2 separate regions of the Homo sapiens genome follow, and region 2 is linked to region 1. A link means that fine-mapping ties the variant in region 1 to the expression of a gene that starts in the linked region. Tissue or cell type: whole blood. Region 1 holds a variant in brackets; the other region holds the start of a gene. All regions are shown on one strand. Distances are between the middles of the regions.

Region 1 (10,454 bases):
GCCAGGACAAGAGAACTGACGGGGCATTCAGCCCTGGAGAGCTATCCTAACTCCTGGTCTACTGCTGGCCCCAGTAGGAGATCTTCCTCCTCTTGTTCCTCAGGGCAATGCTGTGCACGTGCCAGGAGAAATCCACACCCCATGAAGAAGAGAGGTCCAAGGTTCAGGGAAGTTATAGAGGTAACGATCGGATTCGAACACCTTGCTCAGCTTCGAGGCTGAAGACAAGACATGTGCTGGAAGGTGTTCTAAGAGTCAGAGAGGCCCAATCCCAGCTCTACCCACTTGCCAGCTGTGTGACCTTTGGCAAGCTGCTTAACCTCTCTGAGCCGGCTGCCACTTCTGTAAAGTGGGGGTAGTAAGATAAAGCTCAAAGTGCTGGAAAGAGTTCATGAGCTCACACACACCAGTATATAGCAGTGTCTGGCACATGTGAGTGCTCAGTAAGTGGTAACCCTGGAAACTATTACTCCTGATTCAGTCAAATATTCCTCTCCAAGGGGAACAAAAGGGCATTAAAACGAAGATGGAAGAGGCAATAGAGATTCTGGGACCACATATTGCCATGCAAGCACAGAGCACAGTGTTCTCTGTAAGTGGCCGACCACCACAACATGCAAGGTATTAGGAAATCTTGGTTCTGCCCAGCAAACATGCCTCCAGCATTAAGATACCCCAGTTGTGCTTTGAGGCTTAACCTAAAACACCGCGCTGAGAGTGGAGAGCTGGATTTTAGCCTTGTCTGCCATCATGTTAGCTGTACTGACATTTGTGGACTTTCCAGTGCCCTAGAAATGCTCGAGCGTGCTTCACATTGACTCATTTGATCCCCACCATGCCCTGAGACAAGCTCAATTATTTCCCCCGTTTTATAGCTAAGAAAGCTGAGGCACAGAGAGGCTCAGGAACTTGCCCAAGATTGTAGGTGCCAGGATTCAAGCTTGGGAGATCTGGTAGCAGAGCCAAACTGAACTCTGATGCTATAAACTATTTTGCCCCAGACAATAATCCTTTTCCCTCTCTGGGCCTCAGTTTGCACATCTGTCAAAAAGGCCCCTTTGGTGGGAAGATCTAGCTCTATGGCCCCTCCCAAGTCTTAAGCTCTCTGAATATGTCCACTCTTGTGTAACTTTCCAGACTACTCTGCCCCGTCTGGCCCTCGAAACCCCACCTCCAGCATTCTGCACCCTTAGGACTCCCCTGACGCCTGTACCGTATTCATCTTTCCAGGGGTGTGTGTCCCCAGTCTATGTAGCCCTGAGCCTATCCCATCTATGGTCAGACGCTGTTCTCAGTATTGGGAGAGTTGCAAAGATCAGGATTTGGCAAACTTTTTCTGTAAAGGGCCAAATAGCAAATAGTTCAGACTTTGAGGGCCATGTGGTCTTTTTGCAACTACTCAACTCTGCCATCGTAGTAAGACAGCAGACAGGGCAACACACAGATACACGAGCGTGGCCAGGTTCCAGCAATGCTTTTCTTACAAAAGCAGGCAGTGGACAGGATCTGGCCTGTAAGCTGCAGTTTGCCAACCTCTGTCAAAGATAAACAACACAGGGTTGCTGCTCTTAAGGATACAGGGAGTACAGAGACAACAAACTGCACAGCTAATCCGAAGACGCGGCAGGACTTGCTAAGTGCATTTGCGGAGGCATGGAGCTCTGGGAAAGCCCAGAAGAGGAAAAGGCTGGTTTTGACTCCAGGCATGCAGAGGTTTCATGGACAGGCATTTGAGTTTGGCCTTGGAATGATGGGCAGAATTTCCACAAGCAGAAGGGGCAGGTGCAAGCAAGGACACGTGGAGGCAGGCTGCTGGTGCGTGCTGGCAAAGCAGCACATCCTGAGGGCGAGTGTGGTGTGAACCCAGGACCCAGACAAGAAAGATGTTGAGTGCTGGGCTTCTCTCATTCTATAAAGAAAGATGAACTACAAGATTGTTTTTTCTTCTTTTCATTCAACAAACATTTTGAGTGCCTACCATATGCTGGGCACAGCTCTAGGCATGAGGACAGATACGACATTCATAATTTGCATTTTCATTGTACTGTCAACATTTTCAAAGAGCTCTGGGAGCCACGCTTTATCTCATCCTCATAAATACAGAGATTGAATGATTTGCCAAAGTTTTATCATTAATTAATAGCAGAAGCTCCTAATTCCAGATACAAACCACTCTACTGAACAACGGACCCTCCGTCCTAGTTGCCTGGTGCTTATCTCCGCCGGGTGTCTGGAAAGTGCTCGCCCTGTTCTTCTACCCCTGCATCAGTGTGCTAGGGCTGCTGAAACAAAGTGTCCCAGACTGGGTGGCTGGAACAACAGAAATTTATTTTTCTAGAGCTAGAAGTCCAGGATTGAGGTGCTAGCAGGCTTGGTTGCTTTGAGGGCCGTAAGAAAGTGTCTGTCCCATGCCTCTCTCCTGCCTTCTGGTGGTTTGCTGGTATCTTTGGCACTCCTTGGTTTGTAGATCCACCGCCCCAGTCTCTGCCTTCACTGTCACATGGCCTTCTCCATGTATGCATGTATGTGTTCAAATATCTTTTTATAAGGACATTAGCCACTGAATTAGGGCCCACACTAATAACCTCATTTTAACCTAATTACCTCTATAAAGACCCCACTTCCAAATTAAAGTCACATTCTGAGGTACTGAAACCTACCTTTTTGGGGGAAACAATTCAGCCCCTAACACCTCCCCAGCACTTCACACCCCACCTCACATTCCACTGCTGATTGAGCTGAACCTTCACTTCCCAGGTCTCACACATCCATCCCTTTTCCCTTGCCAGTGGTGTGGTGGCCCAACCACACCAAAATAAAAAACTGCCTAGGCCAGGTGAGGCCAGATCCCATGACTCCATCCAAGACAGCCCAGTGGCCAAGGAGGTTGCACAGGGTCTCCCCCACTCCCCACTGGAAGACAGCAGGGGCAGGGTCCAGATGGTATAATCAGTGGGTACACCTGGAGGACGTGCAACAACCACGTGACCCACTGGCATTTTAGAATGTCAACTCCAGCATCAGGGATGGTAGAGAGACGATCACAGCAGGAAGACTAGTCAGGAAACAGGTACGGCGGTCAGAGGCAAGGAGAGAGAAAGGGTCCGAGCTGGGGACGCTATGGTGAGGATGGAGAGGTGGTGGCAGAGGGAATGACATGGCTGGGACTGCGGAACAGGGTGCAAGGGTGGGCAACTGAGCCAAGCGTGGAGCAGAGTGCTGAAGACAACGAGCCCACAGAAGAATCAGCCCCCAGGGGAAACGAGAGCTCTTTAGACGCGCTGAGAGTGAGGGAGCAAATCTTGGTAGATACTGAAGTCTGGAGCTCAGGAGAGAGGCAGGGGCTGGAGACCAGTTTTGAGAGTCCTGAGTGGATTAGATCACCTTGGGAAAGCAAGAGGCAGCAGGAATGGAGGCTCAGTGAAGTGCAGTCATGGGCCAAACCCTGGAAAAGACAATGTTTTAAAGAGAGCTGGGGCACAGATGTGAGAAAAAGGAGGTCCAGAAGGGTCCAAGAAGCAGGAGGAGAACCAGGAGAGAAGGGTGGTTCCTGAGACCAGGACGGTTCAGGAAGACCAACAGCACGCACTCCTTCGGGGCCCCCCTGCTGCTCTCTCTTGCTGGACTTTGCTTAATGTGAGCAAACTGTCACAAATAAGCTGATTGAGCTCCCATCAAAAGAAAACTGCAAGCATGCCTCTCTCATCTTTTAACTGTTTATTGTATAATATAAAACTACAAAAGTAAGACTGCTCATTTCCATGTACATTTAATCTGTCCAATTGTTTAGATTACAGCCCAAACCTACATGTGAATACAGCCATCTGGGTTCCGATGTAACGTCTGTAATATTGCATAGAAAAGGCACAGCTCTCAGGTCTGTGGGGGAAAGGTTATACCTCCTTTTTGACAAAAGCCCTCCTCAAAAACCATGCACCAAACATGTCACTATGTACATCTTTTTTCAAAATCTCGGTCATGCGCACATATGGCCTGCATTTCTCTTCCAAAACTTGTTATCCCCAAAAGAAGTCCAACTTTTTATTGGCTTTGTCTGCAATAGCATTTGATCCTGGCTAATTTTCAAGAACCATTCAGACTCATTCTTAGAAACACTGAAAACAATTGTACATAAGCAGGATGCACACAACTCCATGCCTCCAGGTGCGGGGCAGTTACAGGAAGGTAACCATTTACAGCCAGAAAAGGTTAAATATACTCTTTTCATTGTTTTCAGAAAATGTATAAAGGTCCAATTTGTAACAGCAAGGTTTTCAAATTAAGACAATTCGTATAGAGTAGCAATTGCTGCACGAAGTAGAGTCTTTTTTTTTTTTTTTTTTACATTTGTCATTTAAGAAGGCTGCCCTGCGGTATTCATAATTCATTGTTTACCACAAAGGTGGTTCATAAATTTAAGCTTTAAAAACGATCTGTAAGTTGATACTTTGGCTCTTTGGAGCTTATTTCATTAAGAAATTTTCCTTGATTGACCTCAGGGCAGCTGGGGCACTCCAAGGGGCTATGGCGATAAAAAGCTCAATTGGTAAAGACACTCGAGAGGTGCAGAGGAGGCTCTGGCCACTGCTCACCCTTTGGTATGAACAAGGGTGCCCATGTGGTTGCTCCTTCTGTCATCCAGAGAAAGTGCTACTAAAAAAACTTTAAAAAATATCAACCCTTTGATGCTTTTCTTAAAAATTTGGAGGTATTAAAACATTCCTCATACCTTTTGCATATTTCAAATAGACCCATATTAGAGAAGAGTAAAAATGAATGCGGACTGTGCATACAATGAGAAGACCTGGGGGCCTGGCTTGGACCCCCTTTTAATACAGATTTACATTCCTACAAGAGAATACATTCCTACCATACATTCTGCACATGTTACGATCCAGATGTTAGCGCTCCACAGTAAAATAAATATATTTACACAGAAAAAAGGAATAAATAACTTATGGGGGGAAAAAAACTCA[CTTCAAA/C]TTCAAAGCTCTTACGATTCTGCTCTCATCTTGTCACTTCATTGCACATCAGTGTCAATAACTGTCCTCTCCCAGCCCCAGCTCGGTTTTCTCGTAAAGGCACCTCAAGCTGCCTGCCTGGCCCTGGATGCCATGTGATGTCTTTCATAAAGGGAAGGCACTGCTGGAAGCACATCCCACACTCAAACTGGGACTTGGAGATCCCACTCCAGCTCCTACTGTTCCCTGTTGGGACATCACTTTGTAAGAATAGGATGCAAAAGCAATTAGAACCCTAGATCATTTTGATCTTTCTGAAAATGGGCTGCTAATTTTCCATGTCTTTCTTGTTAGACTTTGAGTATCAGGGATTTATGGCAACGGTGTCAGAGTTAAAAAGCATTTGCCTGCTGTTTTTGGGGTTTTTGTTTTGATTTTGAAGCCCAGCCTTACAAATACATAAGAGTCAGAGAACCAAGTTTGGGCAACACTTCTCCGTGCTTATTTGAACTGTTGCCCAACATATGGGATTTGTTTAAACACATGATTTGCTAATCCAACAAAAGTACAGTTGTTGTAAGTTACTGTAAATCAGTTTTTAACAATGGCAAACCAACTGTTTTACCCTGTTATTGTTCAGAATCATCAATACTATTGTATATGTGTACGTAGGTAGATGTGTGCAGCATGCGGCAGGTTTGCCAGGTCCTCCAGTTATAGAAAGCATGGAATCTGGGCAGACTTGTTCTCTGCAAGAAAGGGAAGCTCTTAAAATTAACAGGCATACTGACACTGGAAGCATCTACTACAACCCTCACCTCAGTTACATGGTCCCTGGTCCTATTAAAGGAAATGACACACCTGTAGCAGTACGAGGTGTCTGCGTGGAGGTTGCTTGTAGGAGAACAAGTGCAATTTGATCAGTTTCTCACTGCTCTACTGAGCTGATAATTAGCCTTTAAAACACATTCAAGTGGGGGGAAAAAGTAAATTAGAATGTAGAAAGCCTTTATCATATCATACTCAAATCTTTTGCTTAGATGAGCAGTTCCTTCATCACAAACGTCTTTGCTTTGCCATGTGCATTACAAAAATAAAACTAACTATGGCTTGCTTAAAGTGCCATTTTATAAAGTTGTCTTTTTTAATTAGCCAGAAAGACCCAATTTTATCCATGGCAAGAAGTGAGCAGAATTGGTGACTGAATATTGACAAATGACCAACAACAAAGACAACAACAACAACAAAACATCCCATAATTTAAAAATTTTTAAATAAATATAAAAGTTATTCCTAAAGAAGCCATCTGCATAACAATATAGGTTGTAACCTGCACTCAACAGCTAAAGTACCATTGGAAGAAAAGAAAAAACTGAAACAAGAAGGCCATAAACAGTTTCGGCAACAAGCATGATACATTGCAACCTTTTTAAAATTAAATGTACACCACTAGGAATAAAAAGCTACTTCTCAAGTGTGTCCTGGGAGATAAGGTGATGGGGGGGGGAATTGGGGGGAGGAGGGAAAACATGCATAGAAAGTCCTGTCTGAGTTTTGGGGTAAAACAGCCTTGACAAGTGTGAAGTAGCTGACTCAGGAAAGCAACCAGATGGGAAGCTGTGACGTAATGTGATGAACTCCAGGTTCAAGAGTCACACATGTTGTAAGAGTGCATCCCGGGCCGGCCGAGGCGAGCCAAGCTCACTGTGGTGATCACGAAGATGCCATTTTCAGCTCTTAGCAACACAGGGAAAGCTCTAGGGAAAGGAAGCTGCAGAAGACAATTAAGCAACATGATGGATGCCTTCTGGGGAGATTTTCTTCTTTAAGGGCCCTAAGCATTGCAACAGGGCTGAGTTCCATGAAGAAGTTGGTTGCTTTTCGGATGTAAAATTTTGTTCGGATGTAAAATTTCAGGTCATCATAAAAATTATGCCAAAAAGGAAAGATCTGGGTTTTCATTAAAAAACAAAATAAAAACAATTAAAAGCGCAAACTTGGCATAAATACACTCTTAAGAAAGACAGTAGCTTTACCCTCAAAAGAGGGAGCAAAAGAGAACCATCACTTAAACCCCCAGCTCCACAGCCATCTCCCGCCAACTGCTTAATGCAAGTTTGATGAGCACATGTGGCTCTGGCTTTGGAAGTCACAGTACTGGCGGGTGTTGGTGCCAGGGGGTCAGTGCTTGTGAAATTTGGGTGTGATATCACCTGGCCCTTTCTTAAAGCACTGTGTGTGTGTTTATGGGTGTGTGCATGTGTGTGCCTGTGTTTGCATTTGGGGACATCAACTGCAGATTGATTTGATCCAATTTTCTCTTGCACCATACACATATAAAACATTACAACTCTATAAAAGTACAAGTGCAACTTGTACATCTGAAGTTTGCAGGAACTATGTGAGCAAATCCTATCAAAATAGCTATCTCATATGTATAAACAGCATTTGTTTTTAGAAAAACAATATCATAAACTGCAGAATCTGTACAAAAATATAAAATAAATTTGGGCAGCAGTTTTCTAAACAGCCATGTAAATGCAACACTTACGAGGAGTAGTTAATGCCTCTAAAAAGGCCGAATTGCCAAGTCAACCTATACAGGGCAAAAATGCCAGAAAAGGTACTGAGATTATCTAAATAAGATATATATATATAGTTTTCTTCTTTACCTCTTGCAATAAAACTTATAGAAAAAATAGACAAATATGCACATGCAATTTACAGCTTTTCCAACTTAATCCTTGTGCTTCACTTGAACTGTTTATTTTTGTCATTCAACATTGCAACATTGTCTTCAAATGGATTCTTTCCTATACCAGGGTAGTAGGTCTCTGAGGAACCACTCAAAAAAGTGTATTAAAAGTGGTCATACTTGGATGAAGGCACTCCAACTCTGCTCAAAGCAAAAACTAGTGTGATCCTGTTGTAAAATTTTCTTTTTCTCTGAAAAAGGCAAGCAAGGGTGCATGCACAGTGTGGAGAACTGTCAGGGTTATGGGAACGCTCTGGGGTCTGGGTGGGCATAGTCGCTGGGTCCCTGGGTCTTAGGACCCAACAAGCACCTCCATGATGTGGTCCAGCTCTGTGAGGTCCATTTTGAAAGGCTGACTTGGGGTGACAGGCTGACTGCTGTAAGGAGCCAGAGTTTTGAGGAGGTCGTCGGCAGACACAGGGGCCATTTTTGAGGCTGTCCCTGATGAGGAAGTGCAGGGGTCAAAATCATACATGGACGTATCAATGTCAGCAAACAGGATGTCATCCAGGGTCAAGTCTGTCAGGAAACCCGTGGACGTCGTTATTTCAAAATTCCCAGGCAGAGAGTCCATCAGTTTTGAGTCATCTGCGCGGCTCTCTTGAGGACCGTCGAGTTTCTGGGTGCCAGCCTCGCTGGAGGTCCCTTTCACACTGTCAGTCGCAGCCGTGGCCGCCTCTGTGGAGGTAGATGTGGGACAGAGCTCCTCGATCTCGTCCAAGGCAGAGGAGAAACTGTCCTTTTCTGGCAAGAGGGCTGGAGGTGACAGTTTGGTGGGAGCCGTGGGCTGCATGGCCTGGGAGGTGCAAAACGTGTCATCGTCGTCCTCGAGCAGTGAGGCCGGGGTGAGGCAGGCCTCCAGGGGCGTAGTGCTTCCGAGGTCGCAGGGGTGGGAGGACGGGGACGCCAGGTGGCTGAAGGCCGGCGGGGCCTCTCGGTAGCTGTCGCTGGGCTCGGTGGTGGGCTGGGAGGAGGGGGTGAACATGGGCCTCAGGCTGCCTTCCTGTTTGAGTTCCTCCTGGATCCGCCTCAACATGTTGTTAATTAAAACGGTCTTTTGCAAGCTGGGCTCTGTCAGGGGCCTGTGGTTATAGAGTTTCATAAGGGAAATGTTGAAGATAGTCTGGCGCTGTAAGGTGTAAGACACCTTGGATGGACCGTCACAGGGAGACACGATTTTGCCTTCCAGCCCATCTTCATGCTCATCAAACTTCCGTTTTCCTCCTTTACCCAACATATATCTGCAGAGGGGAGAGAGAGGAAATGGCATTAATCACATGAAAGCTGATTTCTCCCATAAAAAAAGAGACTGATTTAGAGGGCAGGACTTGGACCTCAGTTTCCTGCCCAGGGTTATTTACAAGTACACGTGGATTAATTAGGGGTGGGAGGAAGGAAGACCTTTTACAATAAGAGAGAGTTAGAAAATCCACCTTTGTATGCCTGTGGAGCAATTTTTATCACTAGGTAGTCTGGTGAGTGTATTTCTTGAGAAATGTGTACGACACAGACAAGTTAAGAATTACCATGGAAACCATGATTTTGACTTTCTCAGCTCATGTGCTTGTGTTCGCATGCCTAAGATTATCATGCAGGTTCGATTTCCCTCCCCCACGTAGATTTATTTTTAAAGCCCAAGAAAACACTTACAATGCTATGACCTAAACAGATACAGGTGTCATAGATTACAGCTTGAGCACTTCTTAAAGGATTAAAAGAACCAAGTTAAAGAAAGGTAACATGTATAATTTGGGTAGAACTGTGTGTGCTTTCAAAATGCTTTTCCTTCCTCATTAAGCACGGAGTCTTTCTGCCTGGTTGGGGACATGTGGTGAAGCACTGCACCTGTGTTAAATGACCACAGTGACTGAGCCGCCGCCACTTTTCATTTAGAATCAAGGGGAGGAATGCGTATGTCCCAGCCTAAGTTCTTCCTTGGCTCAACTTCATCCACACACAGTTATGTTTGAAGACAACTGGATTAATTTTGAAGTAATTAGCTCTGATTATAAGCATTGCTGTTTGGGTACTCGAGACATTTCCTAACAAACTACCTCCTGTGATTCCAGAGATACATGCATATTTTGAGGAAACCATGACCTCATATCTCAGACCCTGAGAATCTGGTAATGGGTTGAATTTTAAAACTGCAGCCAGGAACTCCTGCCCCATCTTGCCTGCTGCTCACAGGCCAGGCTGTGTCCTCTCTTGCTCTGGCCTTAGTGAATACATTTTATCAACTGGTTGTCACCTTCTGGGGAGTGGGCCTTCCAACTTTCCAAGATCATGTGACATCGTCACAACCTCCTTTCAGAACTTCTACTGTCTAAACAGAACAATCTCAAGTTCATTAGCCTTTGCCTCAAAGATCTCACTTTCTAACCATTTAACAAGAAACCTGTCTTTTGGTGTTCGGACCAGGATCGTGGTTCGAATGAAGCCAGGCCCATGCTTGCTCCCTCACCGTCCCCGCCTCCAGCTACAGCACTCTCAGGGACTCCTGCTAATCCTGTCCTCAGTGTGACTCACTCTCATGTCTTCATATACAGGCAACTGCTTTGTAGTTATTCAATTTCTCTTCTAAATGCCACTTACCTTTTAATGAACTGCTTCAGCTGATTGATCACACCTCATTCAATCCTTTAATAACTTATCCACATCTACACTGTCATAGGCATTTGGCCAGGCCCAGTGGGGAGTCCCACATGAACACCCTGGCCTTCAAGAGGCTAAATAGC
Region 2 (10,454 bases), 21 kb after region 1:
TTAATGTGTAAACCAACTACTTGTCAGAGAGCTAAGAATCACTGCCAGTGAAACGTATTTTATTTTATATTTCTGGACATGGTAAAACTATTTAAAAAAATTAGTTTGCCTTAAAAAGTTCAGAAAAGACCACCAAGTTCCTGACAAGCAGAGAGGCAGAGCAAAAATTCTTCCACTCTGGATCATAGCACCCAAATTCCTCAGGCAGATTGGTTTTCTCTGATAGCACGGAAGACACAGGAGAGGTACAGATGGGCAGGGAGATGTCCCCTCAAAGAAGGAAAGAAATCTGAAAAGCAAATCTGTATCACCTATTATAAAATGGGATAACCACACAGGGAAGATCAGTTTAAAGCAGCTGCCAGCTCGATATCTCATTAGCGTGACTAGGATTTTATGCAAACCTGTTCTGGTGTAGAGATGACCTTGGGACTTTCAGATTCTCTGAGTTTAACTTGGGCAATACTTCTAAACACAAGGGTGGGGTACACCAGCAGGCCTGCTCCAAACCCCAGGAGCTGCAGTGCATGGCGTGGAATGATAAGCAGCCGGCCGGAGCAGAGGCAAGCAAAGCGCTAAAGGCTGATCTGGAGCAAGAGACTTTTGATCATTTAGTGTTTTTGACCATGGTCTATTCAAGTGTACATTTTACTTTTCTTCAACAGGTTCACTCAGCCCACTGTTAAACATCAGTGAGTGTGCATATGGATATACAGAATATATAGACATAGATCATGTCTGTAAGAACCAGAATCCCTTCCCCTTTACTATTCTATGGGAAAGTCCTTAGAGAATGCTTAGCTTCTTTTCAGTTAACTGCCTAGGAAGGTTTTTAAAGGAAAAAAGCTTAGAATTAATTAGTAACTCTGCAAAGCTACAGGTTTTTGTAAAGTGACAAAAAAGATAGTAAGGCAGACATGAATGAGTTTTAAGAACTGAAGTTTGCTGCTACCTGGAGTTACTAGAGAAACAAAGCTGCCTTTGGGCACCTCAAACTAGTCAGACCTGCTATAGCAGTTGCACAGTCAGCTCCAGATCTGTCCTCTGCTCTTCTCCCTCCAGCCCCCACCCCACGCCTCCGCATAGCTCAGTCCACTCTCTACTCAGGGTGGAGGTGGGCCGGGCACACTCACCCCTTGATCTGCTGTCCCTGTGGGGAGGCAGGGCCAGCTCTGGCCAGACAGTGTGCAAGTGTAAGAATAGGCCGGCCAGGAGCACAGATGCCAACTCCATTCTGAGCTGAAAACTGCAATGGGTGCGGAATACAGCTTAGGTGATCTTGGGTTTCCAAAATAGATCAATCAAATTGTGGGGTTTACTTCAGAGAATCCTAGCATTAAGTTCAGATGAGGGACAGAGGATTCTGAGAAAAGACAAATGGGTCTTTCCAGCTTTGGGATCCCTCAGACCACAAAGAGGGCAGAATTTTCAAAAGAGAGTTTGCGCTGTCTATATGTGGTGCTTGTTCAAACTGGCAGTATCTGTTCTGTCCTATTAGAAATCATATATTATAAAATATATTGTGATATTTTACTTTAAAATTTTCATTTGTATTTCAAAGAAAATTTTTAGACAGCCAATCATGTTTTGTTTGTCTCGTGATCTCCGAGAAAAAAAAAACAAAACAAGGAGTCTATTTATTACTCAGAATAGGAATGTCGTCTTATTGGGCTGACATATGCCATTCACAGATTCATACAAAGAATGAACTGCCACACAGTGCTAATGGAGAAAGACACTGCTCCACACAATGAGTGACGGACGCTCCAGGGGACAGTTCTGTTCATAAGGGTTTCCCAGCATCTGCACACAGGGCATAAGTTTGCCTTTAATATCAACTGCACTGGCCATTTGAGACAATCATTTTTTCTAGATTAGTAGCCATTTCCTTCAAACATACTAAAACTAAATGAAATAGCCACACATTTCTTAAACAGGAGTCCTGGCTTGTGGCTTTCTACCAATTGCTTAATGAGTAATTATTAACAATATGTACAAAATATATGAGTTGTGCATATAAAGTGGCCATGGCACTTTTAGATTTTCATGTTTTGCTAGTCAGTATTAATTAACAGAAAGACCTATGAGAGCTGGTGTCACCCTTATTGTGAGGCCATTTTCATGTCAACTGGAGCTTGCCTTCTGGTGCCTTCAGTACACAACTGATCTTTGGACTCAGTAATCAGAGACGGCGCCTGCGCTTGCTCTCTCTCTCACGCACCAAGTAACTATTGCAACTAGAGCTATCTCCTATAGGATATGCCATGACAGTGAATACAAAATTTCTGTTGCCAAGAAGCTTTAAAAATTCTATGAGTGAATTAAAGTTCATGGCCCCAAATACGCCTATCTATATATAGCTTTTTCCACAGGTAATATTGACAAAGTGGTCTTGATTCTGTTGATATATGTGAAATATAAAATAAAGCTTCATACTTTTTTTTCTGTGCTTTTTAACAAGAAACCACAGCAAAAGAAACCTCTCAAAGTTTCTGTTCCAGCTTTCACCTTTCTTAGTTACTAAAATGTAAAATATTTTGTCTGAGGGTAAACTTGTAGTATAATTGGACACTGATAATAAAAGTAGCATGCTGCAAGTTGATAGAAATTTTTATGTATTTGCATTCGAACATCTTCAAACTGCCTTCATACGTTTTGTAATGTTTTTTGTGTGTGATGCATGTGTGTGCCTTTCTAAAGTAGTGTTGTAACTTACTCTGCCATTGGAACCCTGTTTAAAATAGCAGATACCATAAGCTATCAGTCGCCACACAAATTTGAATGAGTTTTAAAATATCAAAATATGTGCTATTTTACTAGGCTCATTATCAGTAATAATTCAGTGTGTAGCAACTGGGCAAAATTCATATTTTAGCTTCTCAATTAAATAGAAAAGCTTTAAAGAGGGACAATTCAGCAAACAGAAGTGTAAAGATTTTCTAAATCTGAATTAATATCCTTCTCTTAGTTCTTCAAGGGAAACAAGCTTGAGCAGCTGTTACCTAAGACGCTGTGACATTCGCCTGACAATAAAACCGTTCCCTAGGACACCTCCTGTCACACATACACTTGGTTGGCTTTACAAAATGTGAGTCCTCTCCCTTACCTGTCTGAATGAAGTAAGGAAAAGGGCCGGGTGTTAAGGAAAAAGGGGGTTGGGGGATGTCAAATCCAAAATAAGATTTCTCATCTGAGAACAACATGGTTATGTATATTTTAATTAGGGGGTGAAACAAGTAAAAAAAAAAAACTGTTAAAGGATTCCAAACTTAATGAACGACATAAACAATTTTATATTAACATATAATACCCCTCTAAAGAAGTCAATGAAGCTAAAGGAAAACTTTTAAACATTTGTCTCTTTTAAATAAAAAGAAAAAAAACCCTGAAAAAATAAACAGAAAAGCAGAGATCCACAAACAAACTATTCTTGTTCACTCCAGAAGTTGGGATCTTAGGATGGATATTTTCATCTTCACAGCACACCCTAGCACACTCATATCAGAATAGACTGCTATAAAAAGGGGGAGGGATGGGAGCTGCCAGGGTGAGACATGCCTTCTGCTGAGCTGAGCAACTACCCCCAACCCCCATCGGCCAAGCAGCCCAGACGCTCTCAGGTGGACGGTCCTTCAGGGGCGGAGCGAAGCCCAAAGCCCACTTCACTCTTGTCAGGGACTAGTCTCTAACTACAAAAAGCTACTGTGAACACTTAGGGCCTCAGGAATCCTGGTGACTACAACTTCTAGCCTCTTTACACACATTATGGATATTTCTTAACATACATTGGGAAATCAAAAAGCGTATTTCATGAACAAAGCTTGAAAACATGTACTCTCTACCCTAAGCCCAACTGAGGCTGCCCAATTCGATTCAAATAAAAACTGCTGTGGTCTGAGGCTGGCTGTCTCACTCTGCTGACTGTCCTCCCCATTCAGTGTCTGTGAAAACTTACTTTCTACCTCCTGAAACGACTCGGCTTGCAAGCAAAAAGTTATTCCAATGCAAACTATACCTGATATTTTCGTGAAACTTAGAAACTAAACCTAAAACTCGACTCCCATCGCAATCTATTACTACCACTTCTGCTAAAGGTAACTTATAGCCAAGAAAACAAAACAAAATACGATTTTCTGTCCATGTAGTGGCCCTGTGACGACACCCCCTCTCTTACTGGTACAAAGTCTAGGGCTTGGGACAGCTGGCTCCCCTCAGCCCCCTCCCTTTCAGTCATAGGCGGTTACCACGAAGATGACTTGTAGATTTCTAACTTAAAAACCAACGAGACGTTAAGTTTAATATACATGTAGATCCCAAATCAATTCATTTGGGCATGGACGAAAGAAAAGAGGGTGGAGAGGAAGGTTTTCAACATTATTAAAAAAAACACCGGGAAATTCACAAAAACGCACTACAGTAAGTTGGATGCAAACCCGGCCACGGAACTCAAAAGTGAAGCAGCCTTCGCGCCAGCAATCCGAGCCTTAAAAAAAGTCTCGCACGTTCACAACAACACAACCGCCACAACGCGCACACACATCCCAGCTGTAGAGGCGACAGCTCCAGGCGCCCCCGCCCGCCGCTCGGCTCTCCGAGCTCCCGACCCCCTCCTGACCCCGGCCCTGCCCCCCAGCGGCTCAGCCCGCAGGCGCCGGGGGTCCGAGAGCGCGGGGCCCGGACCGGGGCCGCGGGAGGGAGCGCTCCTCCCGTACCTGCTCCGTCCCCGGCTCCCTCCCGCGGCGGCGCCCGGCCCCTCCTCCGCCCTCCGGGCTCTCCCAGCCCTGGCCGAGTCCCAACACCGGCCCCCCATCCACCCGGAGCCCCCCGCGCCCGCGGATCCCCTCCAGCCCGACGCCGGGAGAACTTACCACATGCAGCTCCACCTGGGAACTAACGCATCAGGAGGGGTTTCCGCCCACTCCTCAGCTACTCCCGCTCCATGCGGAGTGCCCCGCTCCAGGGGCCCGAGGGTGGCGCCGGGGAGCGGGCAGCAGGCGAGGCTGAAGCTAAGACTCCGCCGTTCTCTGCCTGCGCGCCCCGAGCATTATACAATGGTGGAGGCGGCGGCGGCAGGCAGCGGAGGAGGAAGCAGGAGGCGGGCGGAGGGGGCGCCCTGACCGAGCGAGCGGTACGTCGTGCTCCAGCACTCGCCGTGCAGGAGTGACGTGCGGCCCGCGAGCCTCCCGCGAGCTCCGGGCCCCGGCGCCGCAGGCCCCGCCCCTGGCCGCCCGACCCCGCCCCCGCCGGCCCCGCCCCGGCCCGCCTCTCCCCGGCGGTCCCGGGAGGCGCGATAAAGGCCGGGGCCGGCCGCGGCCGGCCGCGGCCGCAGGAGGAGCAGGAAGGGGCGGCGGGGCGCAGTGGGCGCCTGGTGGCAGCGCCGCCCCCAGCTCCCTGCCGGGCCGGCGCGCCCCTGATTTTCTCGTAAGGACGGGCTGAAAGAGGAGGGGAGACAGAAGGAGACACTCCGGCCCGAGGACCACCACTGCCACTAGTAACGCCCCCTACACACTCTAGAAGTGCTCAGGCGAATGACGAAGCGGCTGGTGACAAAGGCGGCGGCGAGTGCAGCGCGTGCACAGCCCGCGGAGCCGCGCGACCGCAAATATGACAAGCATTTGAGCTATTTGGCAACGTGGGGCCGGTCAGCGGGGCGGGCAGGGTCCCCGCGGGGGGCGAGGGGCAGAGAGCTGGCCCGGGCGCCCGTCTCGCTGCCTGCAGGGGTTCCTGGGCGGGGGTCCGCTGCGGGACACTCCTCCGAGGCCCGCACTGGTCCGAACGGCAGGATGGGGGCTCCAGCCGTGAGCCGGGGACAGAAAAAGTCCCTTGCCCGCGTGGCCTCAGCCCGACACGAGAAGTGGGTCACCAAGTCCACGGCACTTTGGGAGCCGGACCGAACGAGTTGCATCCTTCGGGGCCGGCCGGGGCTCGGTGCAGACCCGGCAGGAGGGAAGCCAAGCTAGGAGACGCAGCCAGGTCGGAGGCGCAGTCCTCTGCCCACAAGTTTCACATTGATAGCCTTTCCCTCCCGTGGAGTAAGCTTATGCTTGGAACTACTTAAATTTACCAGGGAAATTTATACTAGTTGGAAGAGAATGTGTGTATGCCCAAATGGTGAGAATTTAAGAGCACTAGGGAAAGAGGCCAGATAGATGGTTCCACTGGAAAATTAATGATTATTTTAAAAATTACACGTGCATTCAGCGTCAAGATGTAAAAGGCAATGCAGGCAGGCACCTTAAAATTTTGGCTGCCACCCCAATCAATATCATTTCAGATCACTTTGGAGTTTAATGGTCCACTATACTAGTTGTATTTAAGAATAATAAAGCTTTAAGACCTAACATAAAGGCGATTGTAAGTCGTTAACATCAAGAGAAATTTAGACTTGTTTAAACTGTTCTGTAATGATTTGTTATCAATCAAATTGATGATCTCATCGAAATTAAACTTGTGCTGAAATGTTGATAGAGGAGACAACGCTTCTTGTTTTATCTTTAAGGAGGATGGAAAAGGTTTTTACTGGACCCTCAGTATAATTAAAGTCTTATACAGTATAACCTAAGCCAAAAGCTAATTATTTGTGGATATCTTTGCAAAGTCTCATTATAATGGCATTCAAAATGACATATTATGGAAGCTGTGCTCACCGGCCCTCTGCAGGTCTTGCTCAGTTTGCGCCTGAGTGGCATAACATTCAAACATTTTGCTGTGAAGCGAAGATATTTTTCATTTCCAGAGTTCTGCAGTTTAGAGAGGGCATTAACTACTAACAGTTTCCTAACCACCCACTCACTTATACTTTCAGTGCTCACTTTAAGGAAAAGCCATTGAAATAGAAGCTGCAATAATCTCTTCCTGTGATATCTTTGTAGAGGAGGCCAGAGGCATTAGCTCTGTTGAATTTAAGGTGAATTTAAACTGCTATTTGTGAATTTAAACTGCTATTCTTGAATTAAAGTAAGCAGGAAGTTACACTTGCAGAACTTTTGTGACACTTGGATATTTTCTAGCAAATAGATTACACCAAATGCAGTGTTTCTGTATAAAATAACAGGATTTAAGTCAAAGTGACAATTTTGTGTCACTAGGATAGACAGGATTCTGCTGAAGTCCATAAGGTCTGTATTCTGTACCTGCTCAAACAAAGGTTTGCGCTCTTAACGAGACCAGCAACCTGCGTTTTTGGAGTGAAATAGTTTCCATCTCTTTATACCTCTGAAGGCTGTAACATCTTATCAATGTACACATTACAAATAGCTCCCACTTCCCCCACTTTTAGAATCTGGCATCTTTGACCAAGAAGTTAAAGTGAGCTGGCAGTTTCAACAGCTGCCAATGTGGTTAACACCAGCTGGTTAACCCTCTCCCTCCCCTTATGCAACCCCCTACCCCAAGGCTGAGCCACACATAGGCCAGGACAGCAATCTCTACCCAGCCCTAGAAATTCAAGTCTATGAGGATAAGGAAAGGCACTTTCCACACTTCTGAAGTCAGCTCCCTTCAGTATGCAATGACATGATTTGAAATATTTATTCAATAAAATATTATTTCAAATCATGTCATTGAATAAGCAGTGTTTAGTGAATATGTAAATTTTGTTCTCACTCTTTGGGAGATTTAAAAGCCCATTTAAGGGCTGGGTGCAGTGGCTCACACCTGTAATCCCAGCAATTTGGGAGGCCTAGATAGAAGGATCACTTGAGGCCAGGAGTTGACCATTCTGGCCAACATAGCGACACCCCCATCGCCACAAAAAATGAAAAAATCAGCCCTGCATGGTGATGCATGCCTATAGTCTTAGCTACTAAGGAGGCTGAGATGGGAGGATTGTTTGAGCCCAGGAGTTCAAGGTTGCAGTGAGCAATGACCACACCACTGCATTCCAATGTAGGTGAGATCTTGTCTCAAAACAAAATCCCATTTAAAATAATCCTACTCTGAGGGCCTCATCCAGAATTTAGAAGATCTGCCTCTCACTTTCATATAACATAACTTTAGAACAGTTATAAGAAATTAGGCTAGTCATCCACATTTAACTACCAGGAACATATCTGTTTAGGGAGAAAAGAAACATTTCTTTTATAAGTATAGAACTGTGATGGTAAATTTTAAAAATGCTCCTGAGTTTAATTTCAGAGAAGTACTTCTCGGCATCATTTTGTAGTTCTGGGTACTAGTTTACACTTCACTGCTTCTCCTTTGAAAGTTTCTGTGCCCTCACATCTTATAGACTAGTACACTAGTGCACTAACTGAAGGCCACTTTTGGCACTTAATTAGCACACACCAAAAACACAAGGGGCAAACTGGGTATATAAACTGAGAAACAAAGACTTTACAACAGGTTTTGAACTTAATTTCATTTTTCCTTTGCTTTTATTAAATTTTTATCTTTCAGGTTCCACCTGAAATGCCAGTAATGATCATCCATCTATATACCTTGCAAATATTGGTCTTGGTTTTATGGCAAAAAAGATAAATGTTTCAGTTATTAAATGAATTGTATAGAGCCAGCTAGGCTAAATAAGCTTTTCATGGAAAATACGGAGATCCTAACTGTGGACTCATCATTCGGATAAATGAATATTGGAATAAGTCTTCAAAATAAAGTTCTGGAAGTCACATCACCTAACTGATTAGCAAGGAGTCAATAGAGGATACAATGATTTGGAAAAGTAAATACTCTCGCAAAGATGGCACAGGCAGATTCAGTCCTTTTCAGCCACTAACAATTTAAAACAATTCTATTGAAGCAGCAAGTGAACTCCTCTACTTCTGCAAACTTTTCTCCATCTCTTCTTCCACCTGCTTTTGTCATGGTTTTTTTCTGCTCCTCCCTGAAGTCACAATTCATAAAAGCAGAACTACAGCTCCAGTGAAGGCCCCTTTGCAAAGCTTTCCATGTTGTTACATTGAACTGCTTTGCAACGACTGCTTCTTACCTTCTGAGGGAGGTTTCACTTGTCTGTTAAAGATATACCTTTTTCTCTTTTAAAAATCTGACAATATGTAAATCTAAACCTGAAACACAATCTTCATGGCAATATTTAAAGAAAATGCTTTTAAAACCATTTCCTTTTTTTCTAGCACTTGGGGTCAGTCCCTTCGAACTATTACTGGAGAAGATGGCTTCTGTTAGGCATCAGCTTCCTTCCTATTCCATTTTCCACTGAATCTTCAAAAGCCTTGTGCAGTCTATCAAAATGCAAAGAACCTTCTTGGTGACTCTGACAACTCCAGGGTTCCCTCCTGTAGGGACACTACTCCACTAAGACTGGTGGTCACTTCTCAGAAACATCTCCCATCCCCAGCTCCCTACACAACACACATTGCCTCTACGCATCGACTATGTATTTATTCCTGTCTATAAGCCATCCATCATTCTTGAGAAGTTCCCACTCTTCTCAAGGCACTGAGCACACTTCTAGCTTCCACAGAAAATTTCAATGAATGTTAGAAATTGCACAGACCTTTCTTGCCCCCAGGAACCAGCCTGGTGACAGGAAAAGTCCTGGACTAGGAGTTTGAAGATCTTGTACACATTAATTACTTAACCATGATAAATCTATGACTTTTTAGTTTCTTAATTGACTGGTCACGGATTTAGGATCAGCACCAGTTCTCGTCAAAAGAGCACAGGGTTGTTGAGTTAGGTGATTTCAGGGCTAGCTCGTCAGCCACAGCGAGCAGGGAGGCCGAATCAGACCCTCTGCACTGGGCCTGCTTCGACACCTGGCAAAAAAAGGAACTTGGACTCAAAGATTTCAAGAGCCCCTCCCTAGAGCTAAGAGTCTATGAAACAGTGATTACACTGTCAATATCCTCATGGAGGAGTTTTAGGGCTAAAATGAGATAAAATGCTTTGGAAGCTGCTCAGCTTGTCTGGAAGAATATAAAACCAAGTTCATGTCCACATATTTCTAAATGAAAGGACTAGAAATACAAATAATGATAATGTGCTCTCTTCAATATGTTCTTTGAATTATTTTTTTAAGTCCAGAAGATGGACTTGAGCAGTTCTATCCATATTCTTCTAGATTTGTTACCCCTTAGGGTTCAAGTCACCCAGCTGTGAGACTGGGAATACCCCTACCCCCTAAGTTTGTATAGCAGCAGGCAATTTACAAGGGGCTTTTTTTTTTTTTTTTTTTTGAGACGTAGTCTTGCTCTTTGTTGCCCAGGCTGGAGTGCAATGGCACAATCTCGACTCACTGCAACCTCCGGCATCCTGGGTTCAAGTGATTCTCCTGCCTCAGCCTCCCAAGTAGCTGGGATTACAGGCATGCACCACCACACCTGGTTAATTTTGTATTTTTAGTAGAGACGGGGTTGCTCCATGTTGGTCAGGCTGGTCTCGAACTCCCATCTTCAGGTGATCTGCCCATCTCGGCCTCCCAAAGTGCTGGGATTACAGGCGTGAGCCACCGCGCCCGGCCACAAGGTGCTTTCATATGG

Evidence for each region. PIP is the estimated chance that this variant, and not a neighbour inherited with it, causes the effect.
Region 2: SERTAD2 starts here. The variant in region 1 is fine-mapped to the expression of SERTAD2 in whole blood (INTERVAL, PIP above 0.99).

The regions. Positions count from the first base shown.
Region 1 is chr2:64,627,919-64,638,372 of GRCh38, forward strand. SERTAD2 (SERTA domain containing 2) reads right to left here. Exons shown (of 2, transcript NM_014755.3): 2 at 3,703-8,957. The coding sequence starts at 8,953. The coding sequence ends at 8,009. It overlaps SERTAD2-AS1 (SERTAD2 antisense RNA 1), which reads left to right and starts at 9,006. Exons shown (of 2, transcript XR_940172.3): 1 at 9,006-10,454. The variant CTTCAAA/C (reference allele first, on the strand shown) is at 4,977.
Region 2 is chr2:64,648,752-64,659,205 of GRCh38, forward strand. It overlaps SERTAD2 (SERTA domain containing 2), which reads right to left and starts at 5,162. Exons shown (of 2, transcript NM_014755.3): 1 at 4,869-5,162. LOC124907776 reads left to right here and starts at 5,320. Exons shown (of 1, transcript XM_047446580.1): 1 at 5,320-6,472. The coding sequence starts at 5,529. The coding sequence ends at 5,960. RefSeq lists silencers at 4,126-4,205, 4,506-4,835, 4,944-5,238, 4,976-5,795 and an enhancer at 6,577-6,736.